4 linked regions of the Homo sapiens genome follow. The protein of the gene in region 1 interacts with the protein of each later gene in a pairwise test. Each region holds a gene or a part of one and is shown on either strand. Other genes may lie near its edges. The genes, in order: EIF4A2, IPO11, PDCD4 and DPPA4.

Evidence for each region.
Region 2: the proteins of EIF4A2 (region 1) and IPO11 interact in binary tests that used the Homo sapiens proteins (3 or more experiments, as listed by UniProt).
Region 3: the proteins of EIF4A2 (region 1) and PDCD4 interact in binary tests that used the Homo sapiens proteins (3 or more experiments, as listed by UniProt).
Region 4: the proteins of EIF4A2 (region 1) and DPPA4 interact in binary tests that used the Homo sapiens proteins (3 or more experiments, as listed by UniProt).

What each region holds. Positions count from the first base shown.
Region 1 is NC_000003.12:186,779,614-186,786,603, reverse strand, and holds the start of EIF4A2 (eukaryotic initiation factor 4A-II), read right to left. Parts: upstream 3,028-6,990; 5' UTR 2,994-3,027; coding exon 2,965-2,993; intron 2,173-2,964; coding exon 2,127-2,172; intron 2,041-2,126; coding exon 1,908-2,040; intron 1,809-1,907; exon of another isoform or gene 1,739-1,808; intron 1,643-1,738; coding exon 1,503-1,642; intron 722-1,502; coding exon 553-721; intron 441-552; coding exon 331-440; intron 282-330; exon of another isoform or gene 157-281; intron 103-156; coding exon 1-102. UniProt on the Homo sapiens protein: ATP-dependent RNA helicase which is a subunit of the eIF4F complex involved in cap recognition and is required for mRNA binding to ribosome.
Region 2 is NC_000005.10:62,415,743-62,422,769, reverse strand, and holds part of IPO11 (importin-11), read right to left. Parts: intron 3,887-7,027; exon of another isoform or gene 3,757-3,886; coding exon of another isoform or gene 3,643-3,756; intron 1-3,642. UniProt on the Homo sapiens protein: Functions in nuclear protein import as nuclear transport receptor. Serves as receptor for nuclear localization signals (NLS) in cargo substrates.
Region 3 is NC_000010.11:110,881,924-110,888,950, reverse strand, and holds part of PDCD4 (programmed cell death protein 4), read right to left. Parts: intron 5,949-7,027; coding exon 5,854-5,948; intron 3,699-5,853; coding exon 3,585-3,698; intron 1,287-3,584; coding exon 1,065-1,286; intron 1-1,064. UniProt on the Homo sapiens protein: Inhibits translation initiation and cap-dependent translation. May excert its function by hindering the interaction between EIF4A1 and EIF4G. Inhibits the helicase activity of EIF4A. Modulates the activation of JUN kinase.
Region 4 is NC_000003.12:109,327,547-109,334,573, forward strand, and holds part of DPPA4 (developmental pluripotency-associated protein 4), read right to left. Parts: intron 6,448-7,027; coding exon 6,324-6,447; intron 4,486-6,323; coding exon 4,325-4,485; intron 4,239-4,324; coding exon 4,188-4,238; intron 3,267-4,187; coding exon 2,978-3,266; intron 1,543-2,977; coding exon 1,344-1,542; intron 479-1,343; coding exon 442-478; 3' UTR 1-441. UniProt on the Homo sapiens protein: May be involved in the maintenance of active epigenetic status of target genes. May inhibit differentiation of embryonic cells into a primitive ectoderm lineage.

The sequences.
Region 1 (6,990 bases):
GGTCAATTCTTCCTTTTTCACCAGAATTCGAATTGGATCTCTCATGAATTTTTTGGTCACTTCCAACACATCAGTTGGCATTGTGGCAGAAAGCAACACAACCTTAAAAAGAGAAAATTATGTTGTAGCACAACTTACACATTAATACCCAAAGGAAAATGTCTGAAGCCAAGCGTCTCTGTCTTACTACGGAATGAAGGTAGACAGAGTTATGCATCAAGTGCTTTAAGCAGGGGGAACGACAACAAAACACATCAGTTGTATTGTAACAGTACCTGCATTAAATAAACCCCATCTCTACCTTTAAGAGGGGGGTGAAGTAATGCTTACCTGAATACTTGTGTTTAGTTTTTGGAAAATCTCATAGATTTGATCCTTAAAACCACGGCTCAACATTTCATCTGCTTCATCCAAAACAAACATTTTGATCCATTTTGGAGCTGTTAGAAACAAAGTCATACTGTCATTTCTAGATCTACTCAGTGATACAATTTGACTTTTCAACTATGTTAACAGTTTTAAAAAAAATACTCTCTTAAAGACAATACTTACAAAGGTATCTTCTGTTTAACATATCAAACACTCTCCCGGGTGTACCAACAACAATATGTGGTGCTTCAGCCTGCAGTTTTTGCATTTCATTTCGAACATTTGTTCCACCAATGCAGGCATGACAAGTGGCTCCCATATAGTCTCCAAGTGCCAGAATTACCTTTTGGATCTAAAACCCAAGCCTTAATTATTATTCCGCAGAACTCCAGGATCAATGACTAATTTTTAAAGCATAAAGGCAAATATAATCTGGTCTGCCAACAGCTTTTATGCATGCACAGCACAAAACTACTTCCAAGCTTAAAATGCAGACGACCTAACTGCTGCAAGGTAAAATTCCCTTAATGTCTTTCTTATGCCTTGTCAAACTTGGGATGCTGCTGCTCCACGCATCAGCTAGACAATCCAAGAATAACGTTTCCTACATTATTCTTCACTGTAGGTAGGGAGTACGTAGTGAAATTTATGTTCTGTAATTACAGCTAGGGCAAATGATTTTTTTCCCCCAGAGGGTATTGTGCCTTATATAATCCTGACCTCAATAAAGCCTACAGCTTTATTAGGAAGGTTTACTTCAAAGCCAATATAGCAGTGAGCTTTGAAAACATAGCATGCAACAGATGCATCACGAACTACGGAGACAGTCAAATGGTAACATGTCACTGCAGTTTTCATGTTGCACAACTGCATTCAAACTTAAAAAATGGGGACAGATCTAGTACATCCAAGAGAGCGCTTCGGATTCTCAATCTATTAGTATACAACCCTACAAACCATACCTGCATACCCAGTTCTTTTAAAACTTTCAACAAAAACTCCCTGCATGCATGGACAATTAAAAGGAGGGATCTGGTAGGACCAATTTATACTAAGTTTTAAATTCTTCACAGTTGTGAAACCTGAAACCTATGCAACACGCAAGCAGTTTTTTTGAACTACACTATCAATACCTGTTGAGCCAGTTCTCTGGTGGGGGCCAATACTAGTGCTTGGGTCTCCTTGAACTCAATCTCCAACTGTTGCAGGATGGAAATAGCAAATGTGGCTGTCTTGCCAGTACCTGACTGAGCTTGAGCAATCACATCATACCCTAAAAAAAGTAGGATACACATTTACCGATCCCACATCAAATTGTCACTTCTACTTCACACCATGTATTCCATTTGGAACATTATGCCCAAATAATCAAGTGATCAGCAATGAGTATTCTCTTCATTTCAGGTCAGTCCCGAAAGATGATTGCCATCATTTCACTTTAAGGAATACAAACAGGTGCTAGTCCCCCAGAGGTTACTTTCCCTTTTATGGTTCATGTCTATGTAGAACAATTTCCTAAAAATGCCAGTTTCTTTTACCTTTAATACAGGGAATAATAGCTCTCTGCTGAATAGCGGAAGGCTTCTCAAAACCGTAAGCATAGATGCCACGAAGGAGAGACTCCTTTAAATTCATATCATCAAAGTTATCAACAATCTCATTCCAGTTGCTCTGTAAGTTAGAAAAAATAATGCACGCATAAATGAGATGAACACACTCACCTTTCCAAAGCTTCAAGATCCACAACCGTTTCTTACCTCGATGACACCATCGGGGTCCATTCCCTCTGGGCCGCCATGTTCTCTGCTGACAAGAATACTGCAGTCAGACACCCCTTCCAGGCCACCTCAACTGCACCTTAAGCGCATAGCCCTTTGCAACCCGTCTCAGCACGTTAGCCTCCCCTGCACAAGCTAAAGCAGCAGCCTCAGGGCGAATATCCACACTGTGCGCCTTCCCTAAAGGTTGGGGCCTGCGGATGCCCGGAAAGGCAGCCCCCCAGGCCCGAGCGCATGGCGATCCCGTTTCAACTGCGGAGCGTCTCGCGAGAGCTCGGAGCGCCGAACTCCGCCCCCAACAATGCGCAAGCCGGGTGATTGACGCGGGCGGAGCGGCCTGGCGAGGGCGATGCCAACGGTTCACCGGCACCGGTCCTGTCCCGTCGCCTCCGCGCCGTGGCCGAGTGGAGACCGCTGCCTCCAACCCTTCCCCAAGTAAAGCCTAGGACCCTCCCCCAACTCGTGTGGATGACCGAAAATAAAGCTTCGGGTCCTGGTTACAGTGTACCGAACTCGGACTGCGCCACGGCTTTTTACTCCATGTTTCCCGTGCTCTACACTGGGAAGGAAAGCAGCCGAAGTTTCGTAATGTCTTAGAGAGGAAAAACGCCCTTTAGCCACTGCTTTCGCACCACCGTCCTATCTCCCCACAATCCGGGCCCTACCCATCATGGAAGCTTCTGGAAGGGCACAGGAGTGCTGTACCCTAAGAAAACGTCCATTAATTTAGAGTTTTTGCCTCCGTGCCATCCACTATCATCTCCCCTGGCGCCCTATGACCTTCACTACAGACCGCGACCGCCAACAGACTGCATACCTGTTATAATCCGCGGAGCCACCAGACATGATCCGAAAAACCACTCAGCGCCCGACTGAAAAGACAGCGGCGCCCAACCACCCGTTTTTTATAGGCTCGTGGCCGGAACCCGTTTCTTGCGGAGGAATTTTCTCGCCGTGCTTCGGTCAGCTACAAAATTGTGATCCTGGGGTCGTTACCTCGGATAAAATCCTAAGCAAGTTGGTAGAAAAACCCAAATGTGGTAATTTCTCGATATTACAGGGTCGCTGGAAATCCTAGGGCCCGGGGTTGGGTTGGGACTCTTTACCTCGCGGCGGAAGAATATAGCTGCGGAGTTAGTTAAACCTCGCTTTCCCCGCCCGCCCTGCTCCTACGGGGTTTCCGCGTCCCTGACGCAGAGGCGGGCCGGGGGAGCCGCGCCGGAGCCGGAGGCGGAAACCGGAGATGCTGTTCGTCGGGCGGCCGGGGCTTCCCGCGGGTGACAGGTCCCGGCTCGCGGCTCGCTGCCGGCACTCAGGTGCGGGAGGGGAACTCGGTTATTCCGCTTGCTCCCACCGCTGTTTAATTCCACAATGAAGACCTGCCTGGCATTTAGCCCGACCGTTAACATCCATTCAGATCTTGGAAACGTAAAATTCCTGCTAGGGAAAATGTCGGCCACCCAGCGAGTCCCGGGAAGTCCGGTTTACCGGTACATTTTGCAGCGCGAGAAGGAAAAATGGAGTGTCATTTGCAGATGTCTCTGGAGTGGCCAATTCTATTCTCATATCATTTCCGGTCTCTCGCTTTCTTTTTAAGAGTGTTACTGATTTTAACCTAACAGGTGTGAGGAATGCCTGAAAAAAATCATAAACTTTTGCAAATGGATAGAAACTAAGCAGTAATTTTCCTTGGAACGCACGAATTTAAATGGACGCTTTGGCAGATACAGCTCTGTGCCGCTTTGGGACTACATCGGTTTTGATTCCGTCTATATTGGTCATTTTTTAAAGGCTGTAGACTTTGCCGATATATAGTGAAATGTTGATTTATTGAAATTCAGAGCAATAATATCCTTGCTGCGTAAACTGCACGGGTCTTTAAGCTCCAGACGTTTTCAATTAGCCCCATCTCAGGTCTCTCGACAAAAACAAAAAACAATATATGTAGTCATTTAACTTTAAAATACAACCCTACCCATGGTGCAAAATATCATCGAGACTATCAGGGTAACATTTTCTCATATTTCAGAAGGCCAACTTAAAGAATCATTACTGGGAAAGCTGACTCAATTTTCTATATTATAGAAGATATTCGGTTCTAAATACTACTTTTTTAATACAAAAATTATTTATTTATTTGAAAATTCTTATCGTGCCAGGAACTAGGACAAAGATTAAGAATACCAAGATGGCAAAGTGGGCCAGGCCCTCAGTCCAGTGGTACTGCTCCTCATTCATCCCTCTGTAATGTTCGAAATCCAGATTTGAGGTGATGCCAGATATTTTCTGAGAATGATGGTCGTCAGACATCCTTGTTGTCTCATCCAAAATCTACTAAAAATATCCTGAGATCTAAGAAATTGAAAAAATACTAAATCGAAAAAGTGACCAACCGTTTGGTTTCACTTGAGCCTTAGGGTGAAAACAATTGATCATAGGGTGATACCAATCAACAATTAACACTTAATCGTTGGTTGTTTTCTTTAGGATTAGCACTACACTAGATGGTGTAGGATTTTCAAGTCTCTTAAGAGGAAATAAAGGCTAAACTCTATGGTATAGGTTTACAAGTGCTAAGTAAGTTTCAAGGTAAGAAAACTTCAAATACAGTCAAAATCCACACCCACACTGCCTGTAACCTTACAGTGTATTCCTAATAAATGCAGTGATTACCACATTTGCGTGTGCTTACTAAATAGTAAATAACATTTGTAACTAATAAATGAATTAAAGATCAAAACGTATACTTTAACAAAGTTTTGCATATCAACACAGAGCGTGCTCTTTTAAATTTAAGTGATTCTGCTTACCTGGAATCTGAAATAAGATAGCCTTCTCAGTGAACTATAAATGCTTCTTTGTCAACCTTTAGTGTTTGAAATCATTTATACTGCAAATAATCCTAAAAGTCAGATTATTTCCCTATCTAAGCCAACTAAGGTAGTTTAGTTTTGCTCTTCAAGAGCCTCAGCTGACAATTCTAAAGCTATCTAGCAACCAGAGAAGCAAAGAATTAGTACAAATCTGTCAGTGCTACATGGAAAAACAATAACAAAACCTTAAAAGAATATGCTTTCAGACGGGCGCGGTGGCTCATGCCTGTAATCGCAGCACTTTGGGATGCCAAGATGGGCAGATCACGAGGTCAGGAGATCAAGACCATCCTGGCCAACATGACGAAACCCTGTCTCTACTAAAAGTACAAAAATTAGCTGGGTGTGGTGGTGTGCGCCTGTAGTCCCAGCTACTCCGGAGGCTGAGGCAGGAGAATCGCTTGAACACGGGAGGCGGAGATTGCACTCCAGCCTGGGTGACAGAGCAAGACTCTGTCTAAAAATAAATAAATAATAAAAAATATGCTTTGTGTTGATAGTGACATCTTCCTATAAAAAGTACCATGTACTCTCATCATTCAGGGCGCATTTGTATGCCATCTTGAGATTCTTACATTATTTTGAACCCATCAGTTGATTTTAAGTGATAGCTGCACATTTAAAGCGGTGTCTAGATAATCTATTGATATATAGACATTTGTTAAGGTATGTGTTTTGGATCTAATTATTACGTATTAATGTTGTTATTTAGTAATAATAAAGTATAAAGCACAAAGTATATAGTACATGCTGTCCTTACATCTGTAATTTCAGTGTTTAAAAATAACTGGGCCAGGCCCGGCGGCTCACGCCTGTAATCCCAGCACTTTGGGAAGCTAAGCCAGGTGGATCACGAGGTCAGCAGATTGAGACCATCCTTGCTAACATGGTGAAAGCCCATCTCTACTAAAAATATAAAAAATTAGCTGGGTGTGGTGGCATGTACCTGTAGTCCCAGCTACTCAGGAGGCTGAGGCATGAGAATCACTTGAACCCGGGAGGTGGAGATTGCAGTGAACAGAGATCGCGCCACTGCATTCCAGCCTGGATGACAGAGTAAGACTCCACCTTAAAAAAAAACAAAAAAACAAAAAAAAAACACTGCCCAGAGCTGGATAGAGATGGTGGTGCTACTCACCTCTTTTTCTTTTTCTTTTCCTTTTTTTCTTTTTTGGCAAACCCAGGATAATCTCTGTAACCTCTTTTTATTACACAGTTTCTGAGGAAATTAGAGGCTAGGTTCTGCTTGCCTGTGACCCCTGACGCAATTTGGAGGGTTGAACTTACTGCCATGTTCTTACACTATAACTTAAAAAACATTTGTGGTTGGGCATGGTGGCTCACGCCTGTGATCCCAGCACTTTGGGAGGCTGAGGCAAGCCGAACAATTGAGATTAGGAGTTCCAGACCAGCCTGGCGAACACGGAGAAATCCAGTCTCTACTAAAAATAAAAAAATTAGGCTAGGCATGGTGGCTCATGCCTAATCCCAACACTTTGGGAGGCCGAGGCGGGCGGGTCACTTGAGGTCAGGAGTTCGTGACCAGTCTGGCCAACCTGGTGAAACTCCCTTTCTACTAAAAATACAAAAATCAGTCTGATGTGGTAGTGTGCTCCTGTAATCCCAGCTACTCAGGAGGCTGAGGCAGGAGAATTGCTTGAACCTGGGAGGCGGAGGTTGCAGTGAGCCAAGATCACGCCACTGCACTCTAGCCCGGGCGACAGAGCAAGACTCCGTCTCGGTGGGGATAAAATACAAAAATTAGCCGGTTGTGTTGGCGCACACCTGTAATCCCAGCTACTCAGGCAGGAGAATTGCTTGAATTCGGGAGGCGGAGGTTGCAGTGAGCTGAGATCCCGCCACTGCACTCCAACCTAGGCGATGGAGAAAGATTATGTCTCAAAATAATAATGATAATAATTTGCATCAAGATAGGTAAAGATATTAACAGAGTTGAAGAAAATGGAGAA
Region 2 (7,027 bases), on another chromosome or scaffold:
ACAGGGGAGGCAGACCTGTGAGAGGAAGACCTGTCCGAAAAACTTGAGTATTTCTGTCTCACCGGGAGTTTTTAGTAAAATGGCACTGATAAACTGCAATAAGTCTCTTGCCTGTTTGGTATATACAAGAGTTCCCCGTGACTAATCTCCCCCTAATAAGAAAAGTTATACATTATCCTAAACAATATTGACACCCCCTACCTGATCAGTGCCCAGCTGTGAGGTACCAACTACTGTCAACCATCACCCTCTGGTGTCTCCTTAGCTGAAAAACAAAAATACATGTCTGTACAAAACCCACTAAGGAACAGCAGTTATGCTTATTGCTTTTAAAGGTCCTTCTCTGGCTGGGCAGTGGCTCACACCTGTAATCCCAGCACTTTTGGAGGCCGAGGCAGGCAGATCACCTGAGGTCAGGAGTTTGAGACCAGCCTGGCCAACATGGTGAAACCCCATTTCTACTAAAAACACAAAAATTAGCTGAGCATGGTGGTGGGCACCTATAATCCCAGCTACTAGGGAGGCTGAGGCAGGAGAACTGCTTGAACCCAGGAGGTGGAGGTTGCAGTGAGCCAAGATGGTGTCACTGCACTCCAGCCTGGGCAACAAGCAAGATTCCATCTCAAAAAATAAATAAATAAAGTTCCTTCTTGGATATGAAAAAAAATAGGAAGGAAAAGCTATAAAACTGATTTTGATTAAGGCACTGAATAGAGATAACAACACAGCCTAGATTAAATTTAACAGACTATAATTTATAACTAGCAGTTAGGCAAAACTTTTTGCTGAGTGTAAGAGATCATCAGTCCTCTCTCCAAATATAGACATCTTCGATTGGTAGTTTCCATTTACTGGTTGAAGACATCACTGTCTATAAAGCTGTATCTTATAAGAATCTCATTCTTGCTATAAAGAGCTCAGCCTGTCATTGTATTTATAAAAACCCATTTGTTCAAACATGCATGTGCTGTATGCCAAGTAATAATCCCACAGTTAATCACTATTCTACATTTTATCATTAAAATAATTTTTCTCTCAGTTGTGAGTCCATATAAGTTAACAAGTAAATAAATATAATTTTCCTATCACCTTGGAGCCACCCATATCAGTTCTCTACACAGTTTAAGTATTTTGTTTTACTGACCAAGACACTGTGGCCAAAAGATAAGGAGATAAACTGACTTCTCTAAGGTCACAGGCTCATTAGTGACATTTCTAGAACTTTAAATGTAAGTCTCCTGTCCCCACCCAGTACTCCCGAAAGATTAAACACTTTTACTTTTGTTCAGTGCTGTCCATTAATATCTCAAGTGAAATTAACTGGGAATTTTTAGCTTTAGACTTGAGAAAGAACAAAAATACATCAAGTTCACAGCCTATCTGCCTAATGAATTATACTACATCAGAACTGAAGACTGAAATTGATGGAGTCATTGAAGATACCCTACACAAGGTTAACAAGGTGAAGATTAAGAGAAGAAATGTTATTAATACATAACTAAAACAAAGGTGTATTATACAGAATATACAAGGAACCCTTGTGAATCAACAAGACAAATATATAAGAAAAGTGAACAAAGGGTGTAAGCAGAAAATATATAGAAAAGAAGAGCTAAATGTTTAATTAATATCAGAAGAGATGCTATCTCACTGGTTATCAGGGATTTAAAATCCAAACAGTGAAAAACTACTTTATGATCAGACTAGCAAAAATTACAAAGTCCAAAAATATTCAATGCTGGCAAGAATGCATGGAAACAGAAACTCTTAAACACTGCTACTGGGAATATCTATTAATACAACTTTGGAGAGCTATCTAGCTGTCTCTAATGAAATTGAGTATATATTTTGTGTATTCTATGACCAGGACACACAGAGGGTCACACACCACATAAAAATGGCGGCTCACGCCTGTAATCCAACACTTTGGAAGGCTGAGGCGGGTGGATCACTTAGAGTGCAGGAGTTCAAGACCAGCCTGGGCAACATGGAGAAACCCCATCACTACTAAAAAAACAAAAAGTTAGCTGGGCATGGTGGGGCACACCTGTAGTCCCAGCTACTCAGGAGGCTGAGATGGGAGAATCACCTGAGCCCAGGAGGTCAAGGCTGCAGTGAGCCACGATCGTGCCACTGCACTCCAGCCTGGGTGACAGAGTGAGACCCTGTCTCAAAAAAAAAAAAAAAAAGTTTCAGTCAGATATGGACCACATATATACGACAGTGATCCCGTAAGATTTTAATGGAGCTTTAAAATTCCTATCACATAGTGACATCATAGCCATCCTAAGTCGTAGTAAATCACATTACTCACACGTTAGTGGTGATGCTGGTGTAAACTAACCTACTGCACTGCCATTTGTATAAAAGCAGAGCACATACAATTAGGTACAGTACATAACACTTGAAAGTGATAATAAGCAACTATGTTACTGGTTTATGCATTTACTACATTATACTTTTTTTTTTTTTTTTTTTGAGACGGAGCTTCACTCTTGTTGCCCAGGCTGGAGTGCAGTGGTACGATCTTGGCTCACTGAAACCTCCATCGCCCGGGTTCAAGCAATTCTCCTGCCTCAGCCTCCCAAGTAGCTGGGATTACAGGTGTGTGCCACCACGCCTGGCTAATTTTTGTATTTTTTTAGTAGAAACAGGGTATCACCATGTTGGCCAGGCTGGTCTCAATCTCCTGACCCCGTGATCCACCCGCCTTGGCCTCCCGAAGTGCTAAGATTACAGGCGTGAGCCACCACGCCCAGCCTACTTTTTTTAAGAGTTACGATCTCTGTCACCTGAGGTAGAGAGCAATGCCGGCATCATAATTCACTACAACGTTGAACTCTTGGGCTCAAGCAGTCATTCCACCTCAGCCTCCTGAATAGTTGAGACTTGGGACTACAGGGATGAGCCATCATGCCATGCTAATTTTTTTACTTTTTGTAGAGATGGGGTCTGGCTATGTTGCCCTGGCTGATTTCAAACCCCAGACCTCAAGCAATCCTCCCACCTCAGCTTCCCTAAACCCTGGGATTACAGAAGTGAGCCACCAAGCCCCACTACTATACTTCTTATCATAATTTTACAATGTACTACTCCTATTAAAAAAAAAAGTTAACTGTAAAACAGCCTCAGACAGGTCCTTCAGGAGATAATTCAGAAGAAGTCATTGCTATCATAGAAGATGACAGCTCCATGAATGTTATTGCCCCCGAAGACCTTCCAGTGAGACAAGATGTGGAGGTGGAAGACAGAGATATTGATGATCCTGACCTTGTGTGTACCTGAGTTAATGTGTGTGTTTGCGTCTGTTTTAAACAACGTAGAACTACACAATGTATTTGTGTTTTAAGCTAAGTGTTACTGCAACAGAGACAAAAAGTTTATAAACTAAAAGTTACAATAAGCTAAGATTATTGAAGAAAAAAATTTCTTAATAAATTTATTTTAGCCTAAGTGTACAATAATGCCCTAGGCCTTCACTTTCACTCACCACTCACTCACTGATTCATCCAAACCAATTTCCAGTCCTCCAAGCTCCATTCGAGGTAAGTGCCCTGTACAGATGTACCATTTTTTACTTCTACACTGTATTTTTACAGTACCTTTCTAAGTTTAGACATGTTTAAACACACAAATACTTACCATTTTGTGACAACTGCTTACAGTATTCAGTGCAGTAACATGCTGTACAGGCTTATAGCCTAGATACAATAAGCTATATACCACATAGCCCAAGTGTATAATAGGCTGTACCATCTAGGTTTGTTCATATGATGTTCATAGAACAACAAAATTGCCTAACGACCCATTTCTCAGGATGTATCCCAGCCTTAAGCAACTCGTGACTGTATCTTCTATGACCCAGCAGTTTCACACCTGGTGCTATAATCACAGAAACCCCTGCACAGGCATATAAGAATAAGGAGACAAAGGACTAGGTTGTCTGCATGACCTAGTTATCTATATTAACAGAGACTTGGAGACAATACGTGAACATCTTTAGTGAAATATGTATAAAATGTATCTTATCCCTTGTACAATTTGTTCCCTCTGGCTGGAAAGCTCTGGTCTCTAGATAAAAGCATGTCTTGCTCTTTGACAGCATTCCATTCTGCTCAAGTTGTCCTCTATTTAAAGAGGTCTCCACTAACTGCCAATCTAAAAGGGCTCACTCCTCAACCAAGAATCTCTATGTTCCCGATATCCTTAATTTTTCTGCATAATGCTATTAACTATATGAATGCTGTTCATAGCACTATACTGTTAATAGCTTACTGTACTGGAAACACTTACATTTTAAACTATATGATATGTGTTGGCTGGGTGCAGTGGCTCATGCCTGTAATCCCAATACTTTAGAAGGCCGAGGCAGGTGGATCACCTGAGGTCAGGAGTTTGAGATCAGCCTGACCAACATACTCTACTAAAAATACAAAATTAGCCAGGCATGGTGGCGCACGTCTGTAATCCCAGCTACTCAGGAGGCTGAGGCAGAAGAATCACTTGAACCCAGAAGGCGGAGGTCGCAGTGAGCCGAGATGGTGCCACTGCACTCCAGCTTGGTCAATAAGAGTGAAACTCTCTCTCAAAGAAAAAAAAAAAAAAACTAGGCAGGCGTGGGCATGGTAGTGCATGCCTGTAATCCCAGCTACTCGGAAAGCTGCAGCAGGAGAATCACTCGAACTTGGGAGGCAGAGGTTGCGGTGAGACGAGATTGCACCATTGCACTTTAGCCTGGGCTACGAGTGAAATTCTGTCTCAGAAATAAATAAATAAATAATGGCTAGTTGGAGAGTTGGAAATAAAATAATTAGATAGTTGGAGAGTTGGAGGAGGGGTTACACATAAGTTAATAAGGGGAAAGAATTAAGATTTTGGGCTTTTCCAACTGATTGGTGCCTGCATGGCTCATAGGAGGAAAACAATGTCAGGAAGGTTGAAATACACAACGTTTTTGACATGAATGTCAAGTATTTTAAGACAACTACATATGTCAGCGTTGAAGAGAGACCTGTGCTAAAAAGCCAGATTTGGGAGTCATCAAAATAGAGGCAATAGTTGAAGTCACAAATGAGACCATTCATGAAGAGTGTGCATTGAAGTCCTTATTTCCTAAACTACGTAGTTTGGATTTTTATCTGAAGGTTTTCAGAAGAGAGCAGGGTAGTGCCTCAGAGTCAAACATCTAAAGTGGTCAGAGAAAAGAGAAAAATAACCAACAAAAGACTGGCTAAAACCTAAGAAGGAAATAAGGAAAATATGGTGTCCCAGAAGTATAAGAAGAAAATTTCAAGAACGAACAAGTAGTTAAAATGGCAAATGATTAAACAGATTCCATTAGATTTAGCAACAAAGATATCAATGGTGATCACCACTACATCAAATTCAGTGACTGCTATGGACTGTCAGCCTTCAAAATACCAAAAAAAAAAAAAAAAAAAAAAAAAATTAACCAATAAGGAGGTGAAGAAAATGAATATAGAGAATTCTTTCAAGAAACTTAAAGGAAATAAGCTGGGCATGGTGGCACACACAAGTAGTACCAGCTACTCATGAGATTGAAGTGGCAGGATCACTTGAGCCCTGAAGTTTGAGGCCAGCCTAGGTAACAAGAGACCTTGTCTCTTAAAAAAAGGAGAAAAAAAAAAACTAAGAAAAATAATTATAGATAAAGCTGAAGAGGAATCTAAGAATCTAAGGTAAGGAGCGTATATTTCAGATAAGACTTGATTTGAGGCCAGGCACGGTGGCTCACCCATATAATTCCAATACACTTCAGGAGGCCAAGGCCAGTGGATCGCTTGAACCCAGGAGTTTGAGACAAGCCTGGGCAATGTGGCAAAACCCCATCTCTACAAAAAAAAATTCAAAAATTAGCCAAGCATGGTGGCCTGCGCCTCACCTGTGGTCCCAGCCACCAGAGAGGCTGAGGTGGAGGGATCGCTTGAGCCTGGGAGGCAGAAGTTGCAGTGAGCCAAGATAGCACCACTGCACTCAAGCCTGAGAAACAGAGTGAGTACTCTGTCTCAAAAAAAAAAAATAAAAAAAAAAAAAGATAATAAGAGACTTGGGTATGCTTAAATCCTTGTTAAGTTAGTACTAGTTGAAAAAGGAGTAACTGAATGTTATGGATTGAACTGTGTTCCTTAAAAATTCATGTTGAAGCCCTAACCCCCGAACCCTCAGTATTTGGAGATAAAGTTTTTAAGGTGATTAAGATAAGATGAGGTTGTTAGGGTAAGGCCCTAAACCAATATAACTGATGCCATTATAAGAAAAAGAAACAGCAGGCCAGTGCAGTGGCTCACGCCTGTAATCCCAGCACTTTGGGAGGCTGAGGCGGGCAGATCACCTGAGGTCAGGAGTTTGAGACCAGCCTGGACAACATGGTGAAACCCGTCTCTACTAAAAATATAAAAATTAGCCGGGCGTGGTGGTGAGCGCCTGTAATCCCAACTACTCAGGAGGCTGAGGCAGGAGAATCGCTTGAACCGGGAAGGCGGAGGTTGCAGTGACCTGAGAGCGGGCCACTGCACTCCAGCCTGGGAGACAAGAGCGAGGCTCCGTCTCAAAAAAAAAAAAAAAAAGAAAAGAAAAAAAAAGAAAACAGAAAGATACAGCAGAGGTGCATGTACACACAGGATGACCACGAGAAAAGGCAGCAAGAAGGTGGCCATCTGCAAGCCAAGGATGGAGGTCTTACAGGAAACCAATCTTATCTGCACCTTGATCTTAGACTTCCACTCTCCAGAACTGTGAGAAAAAAAATTCTCTTGTTTAAGCTACCCAATATAAGGTATTTTGTTGTGGCGGCCCTAGCAAACACATGAAGGAAATATTGCCCGTAAGGAGAAAAAACTCAGAATATCATTAGAGATGGACAGATAGAGGTCTTCATGTTTGCAGGTGAAACAGAACAGAAAGCAATGAAGTTCCCACTCAATGTATTTCATTTCCTCTATGAAGCAGAAGGGAACTTTATCCAGTAAAGAGTAAAGAGGGGGCCGGGCGTGGTGGCTCAAGCCTG
Region 3 (7,027 bases), on another chromosome or scaffold:
CGTCCTCTCTTCTTAAAACAAAACAAAAAAAAAGGACTAGGTTCTCTCAAAAACTAATCAAAGGAATTTATCTTGTGGAGAAAAAAAGTTGTATAGAAATAGTTGAAAGTATGTTCACAGCATTACTTATTATAAAAACTGGAAATTGGTGTCCAAAAATAAAGGTATGGTTAAATGGTATACACATAAAATGGTATACTATGTGGCCACAGGGAAAGATATTTACCATATTTTATGGTATGAGAAAAATCAAGTTTATAAAATAGCATAATGGTATGATTCCATTTTTTTAATTTTAAAAAATTAAGGATTTATAGAAGCCATACATTGATATATACCCACAGAAAGGAGAATGGAAAACTTAACACCAGTAGCAGTTTTTGCTGGCCTTTCTTCTTTCTGGCTTTTATTTTTCAAAAATTCTACAATAAATATAAACTTATGTAATCATTTTCTTAAAGTATGTGTATTGGTATAAAAGGAAAAAATGTCTGCATTAGAATCACCACTTAATATCTCATACCGAGTATTGTCTGTCATTAAGTTTAACAGAAACAGCATTTAGGAACTGACATGCCTATATTCTATTTCTAAATTAATGTTTTAAGTAAAGTGATTTTACCTTGATTAAAAACTTTTGACAATAGCAACAATTTCACATTTTCAAAGCTACAAAAGGGAAGAGTCTTATTTATGACTTCTTATAATAAACATTAGTGAAGCATTCAATCATAACCTACATTTTTTAAAAATCTTAGCTAATAAAACAACTACATATAACAAAGACTATATATATGGCAAAAAAAAAAAAATTACCTAAAAACTATGCAGATCATAGGGGAAAAGTACAAGATAACATTAAATTTATAGCATGATGAAGACCATGTTTAAAAAACAAAAGAACTAGGAAAAAATACATCAAAATGCTAGCGGAATATTTCGGTGTCGTAGGAAATGTTGGCCATCCCCTTCCATCTACTAAAATTTCCTAGGAGTATACATTATTTCCACAATTAGGAATATAGTAGTGGGAGGGAATGAACAAAAAGAAGAATCATACAAACCTGTGGTGCTCTAGGAGTATCCAGTGCTAATTCAGGTAGATCTTTCAACAATTTATCAAATGATTTTTCCACATCAGTTGTGCTCATTACTGTCCCACAAAGGTCAGAAAGAAGCTTAGATGTCATCTCTCTATGACTAGCCTTCCCCTCCAATGCTAAGGATACTGCCAACACTGGTACTCCACTTTTCATTTCACCAAGATTTAAATCTCTTAACATTTCCTGTTCAAAAAAATAATTTAAAAACATTTTAAAAGTGTATCACTACCTATAGTTCAATAAAATTTTATTTTTGAAAAATTGAGCTTTTATCTATATATCTCTACGTCTCACTCTTTGGAAATAATCAAAAGACCCAGTCATGTTTTAGAAGATAGGATAAACACACCTTTCCCTGTGCATAAATCAGACATTGATCCACTTTGTCAAGCTTTAACTGCCTTAACATCGCTAAATTCAAAAATGTGAAATACCTTTAAAATACTGTCATGGGTCACGACACAGATACATTCTGAGAAATTCACCATTTAGGTGATTTCATCAGTGTGCAATCATTATAGAGTGTACTTACACAAACCTAAATGGCAGAGCCTACATGTAGGCTACATGGTATAACCTATTGCTCCCGGGCTACAAACCTGTATAGTATGTTACTATACTGAATACTGTAGACAACTGTTAACACAGTGGTTACCTATCTAAACACAGAAAAGATACAGTAAAAAGAGTATTATATGAGACCAAAGGTATATATGCAGTCTGTCATGGAAACGTCATTATGCAGCTCATGGCTAGTTCATTAAACTACATAATATTGCTGAGATTGGTATTAGGAGTTAACTAACCTGCCTTACAATCTATTATTACTATAAATATTGTTTTATGAGAATTTGTGGAAAAATTCATTTTAGATTATCATAAGCTATTTATATTCTACTTTTCTTCAAAGACTTCTCTTGAAATAAAAATTCACTTCACACTTTTGTATCAAGTTTAAAATGAGATCTTAAACAACTGTTTTTAAATGGGATTATTGGTTTAAGATTCTGGGGTAAATTTAAAATTTCCTTTTAGAAATATAATAGCTGCAGCTAATACTTATTGACTAATGTATCAGGCATTATAATAGCCTCTTTAGTTATATTATCTTATTTAATACTCAAATAGCCCTTTGAGTATTAAATTATCACACCTATCATACTCAAAGGAGAGAGGGCACACAGCTGGAGTAGCCAAACTGAAAGTGGAATAAAGGCAGTCTGACTCTAGAAGCTAAGTTCTAATTCAGTTAGAGTGCCCTCCTCTTTAATGAAAGTTTTCTTAGAATCTTTAAATCATGATATACTACTAAGAGAGTGCCAAAACTATTTTCACAGCCACGTAACTGGTGTCCTTGTTAGTAATCTCTTCTCACTGACTGCATTTCATCTTCCTTGACCGCACTTTAACAACTAATCCACTACCCTCAAACACAATACTCCTCTTTCCTGGAAAACTATCTTAACTGGCGAACTCCTCAACATCCTTCAGACAGCAGAGAATCATCTCTACTATTACTCTCTATTTTATGCTTTCCAAACAGTACTCAGTTAACAGATACATAGTATACAATTGATCTTATGCTAGGTAGATTAACAAGATTTCAACAGTCCCTGCCCTCATAGGACTCATGGAAACTTTTCCTCTATAACAGAACGTTTCACGTATTTTAATAATCTGTTTACATATCATTTCTTTCACTTGACTGGGCTTCAAAAGGGCAAGAATCACCTATTACAAATTCCTCCAGATGGTATGCACTGAACAAATATTTGTCTTATATTCAAATCCTACAAATCCAAAGATATCAAACCTCACAGTATCAGACAAATCATAAAAGTCCAGTCTAAATTTTAAGAATCTAAATGATCAAAGTCTTCTAAAGAGTTACAATTGTATTACTTTAATTTGATAATCCTAACTAGACCAATGGTTTTATTTTATCCTAGATTTACTTTATGAACAAATCATGATTATTCTCATGGCTTCTGTATATTCTTTTTCAAATCTTTATTATTTGTGGGGTTTTTTTTGGACAAAGTACAAAAAGATTTTATCCTACTTCTGAACATACGTGAAATAAATGTCAAAAAAATGAAACTATGTCAGGCATTCTTAACTGAGATCCCTGAAGAGGTTTCGGGGGGCGTCTAGAAGTGCCCTCAAACTGCTAAAATTATATTTTATAAATTATAAAAACAGATTTTATAAATTCATATACATTACAAATTATAATTATAAAAATTATAAAAATATTGTGTCATTTTTCAGAGAACAAAATGGCACACAGCTCTCATCACATCCCAAATATATAACTGTTTTAATGTAATGAGATTTTATTCCATTTCTTAGAAATTCACTTATGCAAAAGAAAATGATTAAATTTATTCAGTGACCCAAGATCATTGTAGATGTATTTTGCTTATAAAAGATGTCTTCTCTCCTATATTAAATAAATTATACTTGCAACTTTAAACCTACCGCAACTTCATTAGTATCTCCATGCTCAAAATATTCCTGTATGATTGGTGTTAAAGTCTTCTCAAATGCCCTTTCATCCAAAGGCAAAACTACAGTTTCATAAACACAGTTCTCCTTTGAGGGGAAAAGGGAGTAAGAGTTATAAAAAACAAAATGCAAATAAACAAGTGAAATTGTTGTACAATTTTATATTCTAAGTGGTTAATAATCCCCACTTAGCACAAGACAAAGACATGCTACATACATTGATCGCATATAAAAATAGAATCTAGGCCAGGCAAGGAGACTCATACCTATAATCCCAACACTTTGGGAGGCAAAGGCGGGAGGTTCACTTGAGGCCTGGAGTTCAATACTAGCCTGGGAAACATAGCAAGACCCTGTCTCTACAAAAAAGTTTTAAAAATTAGCCAGACATGGTAGCTTGCCCCTGTAGTCCTAGCTACTCAGGAAGCTGAGGCAGAAGGATCTCTTAAGCCCAAGAGTTCGAGGCTGCAGTGAGCTATAATTCATCACTGCACTCCAGCCTGGACAACAAAGCTAAAAAATAATAATAATAAATCATAATAAAAATAGTAGAATTTATATGTCACTGCTCTTTTACAAAATCAGAATACAATAAGCCAATATATAGATTAGAATCATTAACCACAGCAAATACATAATTTGCTCCCAACCCCCATGTCTTCTGTTAATTTTTTCTCTCAAAATTTTTATGTCTCTCTCAAAACCAATCTTTTAGTAATCAAAAAGTTTCATGATGGCTTCCTATCATAAATGGTGTTTTAATTAAAATTTCACTTTAAAAAAAAATGAAGCAGGAACCAAAGCCTTCACGATTAGCATTATTATAATAAAAAGTATAACACAAAGATCAATGTTGTAGTGACAGAAAAAAAATCTCTAAGGAAAAAAGCACTGTTCAATTGAAATTTCAAAAAGAAAATTAACATCCATCATCAAACCATTCCTCTCTCCCCATGCTAAAAAAGCTCTGAAATGTAGTGCCCCCTTATCTACAAGGGGTATGTTCCAAGCCCCGTCCGAGGATGCCTTAAACCACAGATAGTACCGAACCCAATAAATACTGTTTTCTCAATCCGATAACCTAGACAGCTACCATGTGACGAATGCACGAGTAGTGTATACATTGCGGATACACGCTGGACAACGGAATGGCTCACATCCTGGGCAGGATGAGGTGGATGAAGCTGGACAGCAGGAGATCTCATCACACTACTCAGAATGGCATGCAATTTAAAACTTATGAATTACTTCTGAAAGTTTCCACTCAATATTTTCAAACCACATTGGACCATGGGTAACTGAAACTGCGGAAAGTGAAACCACGGATAAGAGGGGACTGCTATATTTACAACTTGTGACTGGCTTCAGCCTAAAAACATATACTTGAAAGATTAATACATTTTTAGCAAAGATTCTACAGTACTTGAATCCTACTAGTTTCATATTTTTCATGTTCTCTTAGAAATATTTCCATATCTATTAGTTAAAACACTTAAATACATACATACAACACACAATAAAAACAACCTAACACATACTCTTAACGTTTTCCTGTCTAAAATTTCCATCACCGTGTCTCACCTTGTGCAAAGACAAATTTTCAAAAAACATAATCAAAACATTTGGGATTTGCTTCAAAATAATCCAAAACAGGGTGGGGCAAAGGGGCCAATAGAAGACGGAGAGTAAATGGAATTAAACAAGACTGCCTATGAGTTTGTAATTATTTAAGTTTGTAAAGCTAAGAGAGGAGTACAAGCAGATTATACTATTCTACTTTAAATTTTTTCCATTAAAAAAAATAAAAAATTCACTTCACAATCTATTAAAAATTTACATTTTCAGCATTATCCCTAAAAGAAAGATGCGCATGTCCCCAAAACAAAATGTATTATATAGTTACCATTCTAAACAGTAATATTTAAAAGGAATCTAATATCTGTAACTCATAATATTCAAAAGAAGATATTCTCAATTATCATTACTATAGAAACAAACTATATTAACAGAATTTACTGAAAAATGGACAACTTAATAATCCTAAGTGAATTTCTAAAGAGCTATTTTTGACTCACTACAGAAACCAAGTGAAAGTTATGCATGTATTACTGTCAGTTTACTTGGTTTCCTAATCCAAAACATTTATACATATGATTTGACACATGTATGAGTAAACTACAAACATGAAGTCAAAAAAGTTCATAAACATTTTAAATATTATGAAAAAGCAAAGCACTGATACCTGGTCATCATCATAGTTAGGATCTTTCACATCCACCTCCTCCACATCATACACCTGTCCAGGTGTACCCCAGACACCTTTGCCTCCTGCACCACCTGAAAAAGTTTAGCATTGAGAAAGAAAAAACACAAAATTCATCAATTTGTTGAAATCTAAAATAAAATGTTCCGATGTTAAACAACAGCTAAAAAAAAATTGTATTTAACGTGTTAGTTTTTTTCCAGTTTTCTTCCCCTACTGGTTTTTGTTCAGACCACTCTTTCAATATTTCCAAAAACATTAAGTTAAAATAGCTTATGAAGTTAAAAACTAAAAAAGCAGATGCTTTAAAATAAAAGCAAAAACAAATAAAGATAAAAAAATAGCTATATTGAGGACCTCAAAGGAGATGATATTGCAGCTGAGCTCTAAATTTTATTCGACATTTCTTTGAGACTAAGACAAAAAGAAACATTCTGGGCCGGTAAAGCTTAGCATAGAAAACTCAACAAGGGAAAAATTATTTAACAAAAAAGGACAGTAACCACCATCAAATATTTTAAGGTCAAATACAGTACTCTTTAAATATTAAAGTACACATTAAACCATACAACTAGCAATATGTTATAAATATAGAAAAGAATTCTAACTGCTTTTAAGCATTAACAGCCCTGAAAATTCTGTTTTCTAAATACAAAACAACCAAAAGAAGCTTAACAATTCCAATTTTCAAAGTTGCTTTTCTACATCAACTTACTGAAATGTTTTAAGGACTAATGTACTACACTATTTTTTAAAGAACCTTTACAATGTCACCAACATTTCTGTTTTTGGAGGTTTTTATTTTGTACCAAGTATATCCTTGCCATCAGACCAAAACAGAATCTGACAACCAGGTTTCATTTTGATATAAAACATGATTGCAGAGGCATTTAACAAAACTAATTTTTGACAGATCACAAAAACATTTTACAAGAAACCTAGGCTATAAATTGAAGTTCCCACCATTCAGAAGGTGATGAAATCGTCAGAAAACTCTTATTCAACAAATATTTGCCTACAGTGTACTAGTCACTATTTCGGGTACTAGAGAAACAGCAGTGAAACAGACCAATCTACTACAGAACCCAAAATAAAGAGCTAAAGAGAACTCACCGTGAGATCTAGGAAAACATTAAAATTCAGATCTAGACGT
Region 4 (7,027 bases), about 77 Mb from region 1:
CTGTACCTAGCTACTCAGGAGGCTGAGGCAGGAGAATCATTTGAACCCAGGAGGCGGAGATTGCACTGAACTGAGATTGCACCACTGCACTCCAGCCTGGGCAACAGTGAGACACTGTCTCAAAATACAACAAAAAAAAGCTGCTGCTGAAGTCATGTCTATTTTAGAAAAGTAGTATGAATGAGTTTTTCTACATATTAACTACAATTTATGGTAATTTGTGAAATGTTTTTCCATTTTTAAATGTAAGAGTCTCTATCTCCACTCACAAAGCAACAGGCACTGCTAGGGGTCTTAGGCTAACATCTGCCACCCCACCAGTCTGCATGGCCCATAAACAGGTGCAGAGGACCAGAGTTCACCTGTCAGCAGCACCGCAGAATCCAACTCTCCAGCTTTTCTGCCATTAATTACCATAGATGTGGCCTTTTTCCTGATATTCTATTCCCATTGGAGGCTTTTTATTAAGACCTTGTTCCTATAAAGCAAATAAAGTATTTGTTTTTAAAAAGAATGAAGAAATATTAAAAATAGCCAAGAAACCCGCTGCTGGAATGCTGTTGAAATTGCCCTTACAACTTTAGGATCATAGGTAGCAAGCCTGTGATCCTGTCATTCAAGAATGAAGATCATCAGCCAAGTTATCATGCCTCTGTAATATATTCCCTGACTTGTGCCAACCATGGACAGGAGGCCTTGGAGGGGCTCTTTTCATCACTTTCCCAAAAACCTAAGTATGTCATTAAAGGACTACCCAAAGTGACCTCCTCAGTTCTCTTCAACTTGCTTGGCATAGAGAGATTATCAAAACACTCACAGCAAAAAGTAGGATATCCCAAAGAAGGAAAAGCCAATCACACATTCACATACTTCCTCCTGTGGGAGATGGTCTTGCTACGTTTCCCAGGCTGAGAAATTACCGATCTCTCCTTTCCATCTAGTCGATTCTTCCCTTAACTTAAGGAACCTCTTCTTTGATATTCATCATGTTATTCTAGGTGTTTACATGCCCACCATCCCTGTTAAGACTGTAGGCTACTTAAAGGAAGAGGTTTTTTGCTAGTCATTATTTCTGTGTAGAGCATACACTTTGAATATAGTAATTATATAATGTTTGTTGCTCCCAGAATTCTGTGTCTCCAGGTAGAAGCATTAAACCCTGACACATAAATGCTTTCTTTTTCCTGGGGATAAACTTAACTGAGTAATAATTTTCTTGAAACTCTTTACTGACAATTTGAGCTTGAAATACCTGGCTATTTAAGATTAATGTATATCTTAACTTTCTGCAATTGAAAATCCGGCACCCACTTTTAGTTTGTAGAAAAGCATCAGGTAATTACCTGTGAACACATTTGGGGCACAACATATTGTCTTCAAGGTGCGGGGGTGGAAAATTGGAGGCAGGAAGCAAGAAGAGTGCACTCACTCTCCCTTCTTGCTTTTCTGGAACCCAGGCTTGACCAGCATGAAACTGCAGGTGAACCCAACCATCTGTGTCTGCAGGGAGACTTTTCCCATGGACCACACACCACCTGACACCTGGCAATGGCAAAGGAAAGAGACAGGTACCCGCACACCAGGATGACATACTGATGTAAGACTGCATTATGGCCCATCACCCTTGATTGACCAGCTCCAAGATGTGAACCCTGAAATCCTAACTTAACCTCTTCTCTATTCTGTTCTCCTTTAGAAAAGCATACAAGCTGGGCGCAGTGGCTCACGCTTGTAATCCCAGCACTTTGGGAGGCCGAGGCGGGTGGATCACGAGGTCAGGAGATCGAGACCATCCTGGCTAACACAGTGAAACCCCGTTTCTACTAAAAATACAAAAAATTAGCCAGGCGTGGTGGCGGGGGCCTGTAGTCCCAGCTACTCAGGAGGCTGAGGCAGGAGAATGGCGTGAACCCGGGAGGCGGTGCTTGCAGTGAGCCAAGATTGCACCACTGCACTCCAGCCTGGGTGACAGAGCGAGACTCCATATCAAAAGCAAAACAAAACAAAAAGCATACAAGACAGTTCCTGTTAAAACTTAAAAATCTAGTTGGAAGTAGTATAGTTGTAGGTGGGCAGATGGTAGAAAGACTAACCCAGAGTGTCTGGAAAGGGCTTCATGAAATAAGCTCAGGGGTCTCAGCTCTTAACACACATTGGATTATGCTAAGCAGTTTGTCTTCTTTTGTTGTACTTTCTGTAATTCTTCCAACATATAAGGTAGGTATTACCCATTTTACAATGAAAACGCTGGGAAATATTTTAAATAACTTATTAATGCCATTCTGGGGCTCAGTTGCAGGCAATTAATTTTAGACCTTGCCTTTAATTTAAATTGCTTAAAGGGTAAAGAAAGAAAACCAGACTGCTATCCCCTTCTGATGCCATCAATAATTTAGAGCAGTGGTTCTCAAACTGTGGTCCCCAGACCAGCATCCTTAGTACTGCCTGGGAAACTGTTAGAGATGCAAACTCTTGCCAGGTACGGTGGCTCACGCCTGTAATCCCAGCACTTTGGGAGGCCAAGGTGGGAGGATCATCTGAGGTCGGGAGTTCGAGACCAGCCTGACCAACATGGAGAAACCCCATCTCTACTAAAAAGACAACATTAGCCGGGCATGGTGGCACATGCCTGTAATCCCAGCTACTCAGGAAGGCTGAGGCAGGAGAATTGCTTGAACCTGGGAGGTGGAGGTTGCGGTGAGCTGAGATCGCGCCACTGCACTCTAGCCTGGGCAACAAGGGAGAAACTGTCTCAAAAAAAAAAAAAAAAAAAAAAAAAAAAAAAGGAAAAAAAAAAAAGAAATGCAAATAAATGCTCAGGTCCTGCCCTAGACCTGCACCAGAAACTCTGTGGGCAGGGTCCAGGAATCACCGGCCCTCAAAGGGATTTTGATATACCCTAAAATGTACCAGTGATTAATATCTACTAAGCTTATTTCCCCATTGGACCAGAATAAGCTCTTCATGTTGCGCTTACCAGAGGCCTCTTGTGGAGATTCCACTGCCTCTGGTGTCCTCGCCCTGGCTGAAATTCTCGCCCAGGAGGCCAGCAAAGCCTCTGGGGCAGAAGTTGTCACCACAACTGTATTAACTCCCTCAAGGAGAGCAGTGGAATTTTCCAGGGCAGGCGGCTCCCCCACAGGAGGAAGAGCCACTTCAGGAGGATGTGTCTCAGAACTTTGCAGGGACGTTTCCCCCTTTTCCACCTTTAATTTTTTTTGCAATGATTTCCGGATTTTGGCCTCTTTTGCTGTGCTAGGAAAATCCTACAAAAAGGGTTAAATAATAAAGATAAAAATACAGATTAAAATTCTAACAAAAATGGCCTAAGGAGCTCTTGATCAAATACAAAGTTTCACTTAGGAGGACTAGGTTCAAGAGATCTATTGTACAAGTTGGTAACTATACATAGTTAATAACAATGTACTGTCTTCTTGAAAATTGCTCAGTTGGCCACCCAGTGGCTCAGGTCTGTAATCCCAGCACTTTGGGAGGCCAAGGTGGGTGAAACACTTGAGGTCAGGAGTTCGAGACCAGCCTGGCCAACATGGTGAAATCCCGTCTCTACTAAAAATACAAAAATTATCCAGGCATGGTGGCTCATGCTTGTAATCTCAGCTACTCCAGGGGCTGAGACAGGGGCATCACTTGAACCAGGGAGGCAGAGGTTGCAGCCTGAACTGCAGCCTAAGTGACAGAGGGAGACTCTGTCTCAAAAAAAAAAAAAAAAAAAAAAAAGAAAGAAAAGAAAAGAAAAGAAATGAAAAGAAAAAAATAGAAAAAAAGAAAATTGCTGGCCAGGCACAGTGGTTCACGCCTGTAATCCCAGCACTTTGGGAGGCCGAAGTGGGTGGATCACCTGAGGCAGGCGCCTGTAATCCGAGCTACTCTGGAGGCTGAGGCAGGAGAATTGCTTGAACCCGGGAAGTGAAGGTTGCAGTGAGCCGAGATGGTGCCACTGCACTCCAGCCTGGGTGACAGTGCAAGACTCTGTCTCAAAAAAAAAAAAAAAAAAAAAAAAGAAAGAAAGAAAGAAAAAAAAGAGAAGTAGAGATGGGAAATATTGTTCTTTCTTAGAACTAGGGGTGGAGGAACAAGGTGAGGCTAAGACAGTTCCTTTACTCACTTTTGAGGCTACAATAGGTAATTAGGATAAGCATTGAAACGTCCATCCTTTAAAAAGTTACCTTTTGATTTGGGTAGGCAAAGGCACACAGGCGCTTATATGCATCCAATTTCTAAGACAATAGAAAACTGAGTTAGTAAGGCAAATAAGGTTCCTACCCTTCCTCCCAGCAGCACCGTCCCCAGCCTGGGACCTCACCTGGCCTTTGGAGCTCAGCTTCAATTGTTGGCACCAGGCCCGCAGAATGTCCCGGTGAATCAGATTAACAGGTGGCAGTTTAGAAGGTAATGGAGGGATTGGTATCTTCTTCTGAGGTCTGGGGTTGTCAGTGTGCTCTGCCTTTTTCTTAGGGCAGAGCACTGAAGCAGAATGGAATCAAATGAGTAGTAATTATCTTTGTGTAGCTTTTCTGAATTTCAAAAGTAAAATCACTTTTTTTTTCTTTTTTGAGACAGAATCTTGCTCTGTCGCCCGGCTGGAGTGCAGTGGCGCGATCTTGGCTCCCTGCAACCTCCGCCTCGTGGGTTCAAGTGATTCTCCTGCCTCAGCCTCCTGAGTAGCTGGGATTACAGACGCCCACCACCACGCCCGGCTAATTTTTTGTATTTTTAGTGGAGATGGGGTTTCACCATGTTGGCCAAGCTGGTCTCGAACTCCTGACCTTGTGATCTGCCCACCTAGGCCTCCCAAAGTTCTGAGATTACAGGCCTAAGCCACCGCGCCCAGCCTAAAATCACTTTTAGTTAATAGTCCAATCCCTCTCAAACCTAGGATTTACCACTTCTAAAACCCAGTTTTATTCCTAAATTGCCCCACTACTGAGGTACACTTGCTCCTTTGTGAGCTCCTTAATCCACAGAATCCAGGTGGTGGCATCGGAGGTTGCACTTCCATCCCAGGGGAATTACCGCTGTCTTAGACTTGAGATCATACTCAGTGGTGTCCTCTACCCCCAGAGCAAAATCAACACCTGACAATGCTACACAGGCAACCACTAATACCCTTAATTCTGCCAGCCCACCCTAGGTCAGGGAAGCACTCTGGTTTCATAGCAGGTATGTTTCCTTAGCTCTGCTGTGTTTCTGTTCATCCCGCTTCTGCACCTCACATACCTTGTCTTCATTCAGTAAAGATTTCTGGCTGGGCGCAGTGGCTCACACTGTAATCCCAGCACTTTGGGAGGCCGAGGTGGGTGGATAACCTGAGGTCAGGAGTTGGAGATCAGCATGGTCAACATGGTGAAACGCCGTCTCTACTTAAAAAATTAGCTGGGCGTGGTGGCACATGCCTGTAATCCCAGCTACTTGGGAGGCTGAGGCAGGAGAACTGTTTGAACCCGGGAGGCAGAGGTTGTAGTGGGCCGGGATCGTGCCATAAAAATTTCTAAGGCTGGGCATGGTGCCTCACACCTGTAACCCCAGCACTTTAGGAGGCCAAGGCAGACGATCACTTGAGGCCAAGAGTTTGCAATCAGCCTGGCCAATATGGTGAAACCCTGTCTCTACTAAAAATACAAAAATCAGCCAGGCATGGTGGCACACGCCTGCAATCCTAGCTAACTTGGGAGGCTGAGACAGGAGAATTGCTTGAACTCGGGAGGCACAGGTTGCAGGGAGCTGAGATGGTGCCACCACACTCCAGCCTGGATGACAGAGCAACACCCTGTCTTGGTGTCTCAAAAAAAAAAAAAAAAAAAAAAAAAAAAAACCAGCCTGTAATGACACTAATAGTAGGGTTTACTCTGTACATATTACTTCTCAGGCATAGTCTAAGTGCTTCACTTAACTACTCTATGTAAATTTTAACACTCCATTCCCACCGCTTAATAAAGGTAGATATTGTCCTAACTTATTTTTAGAATAGGAAGTCCGGTTTCAAGAATGGATCTTCAAATTTACAGCTGTCTGTTCCCAAATCATTGCACACTGAAATCCTTAACTCCAAGTAGCAAGTGAAGGAAAAAATGATCAGCAGAACCAAATATGCTGTGGAAGTCTGAAGATAGGAAGGGATCAGTTAGAGCAGTGGTGACCAAAAGATGCTTCAGGAAGGTAACAGTTTAAGCTTGGCTTCCATGAAGTGCAGGATTTGCACAATACATGATGGAAATTTCTTCCCTGGTTTTTCTTCTTCAGAAAAATTCCTCTGGCTTCTAAGACCCGAGAAGGTGGGATTTGAGAATTTGAAGACCTCTTACCTTTACTGCCTTTGATAGACATTTTTTCTTTGGTTCTCTTTGCTGATGTTCCTGGCAAAGCAATTGAATTTGGTTGATTAGAAGCCTGCTGATCCTCTTCCCTCGACTTCTCTGTGGAGGTCCACTGGGGAACAGAGGAGCTGGTCAGTCATTCCTCTAGTGTCCAAACCACACATACACTACCTGCCTCAAGATAACTCACTTCTAAGGCACCAACGCAGTTACTGGACTCCACTGGCAGTGTGGATTCTCCTCTGGGTATCATCTTAATACTCAGTTTCATTTACAAGACTGGGAAACAATGATGGAAAAAAAGGGAGGAAGCCAGTTTGAAAGCACATGAAAAGACAGATACAAACAAGAGTAGAAGAAAACAGCTCTGCCTTGAGGGGAAAAAGCGCTTAGGTAGGCTCACGCCTGTAGTCTGAGTGCTATAGGAGGCCTAGGCAAGAGGATTGCTTGAGTCCAGTAACTGGATACCAGCCTGAGCAACAACATAGTGAAACCTTGCCTCTACATAAGGAAACAAAATTAGCTGAGCATGGTGGTGTGTGCGTGTAGTCCAGCTACTCGAGACTGAGATAGGAGGATTGCTTGAGCCAGGGAGGTAGGTAGAGGCTGCACCACTGCACTCCAGCCTGGGTGACAGAATGAGACTGTCTCAAAAAAAAAAAAGAGGCCCTTAACTCACTTACTATATTCCA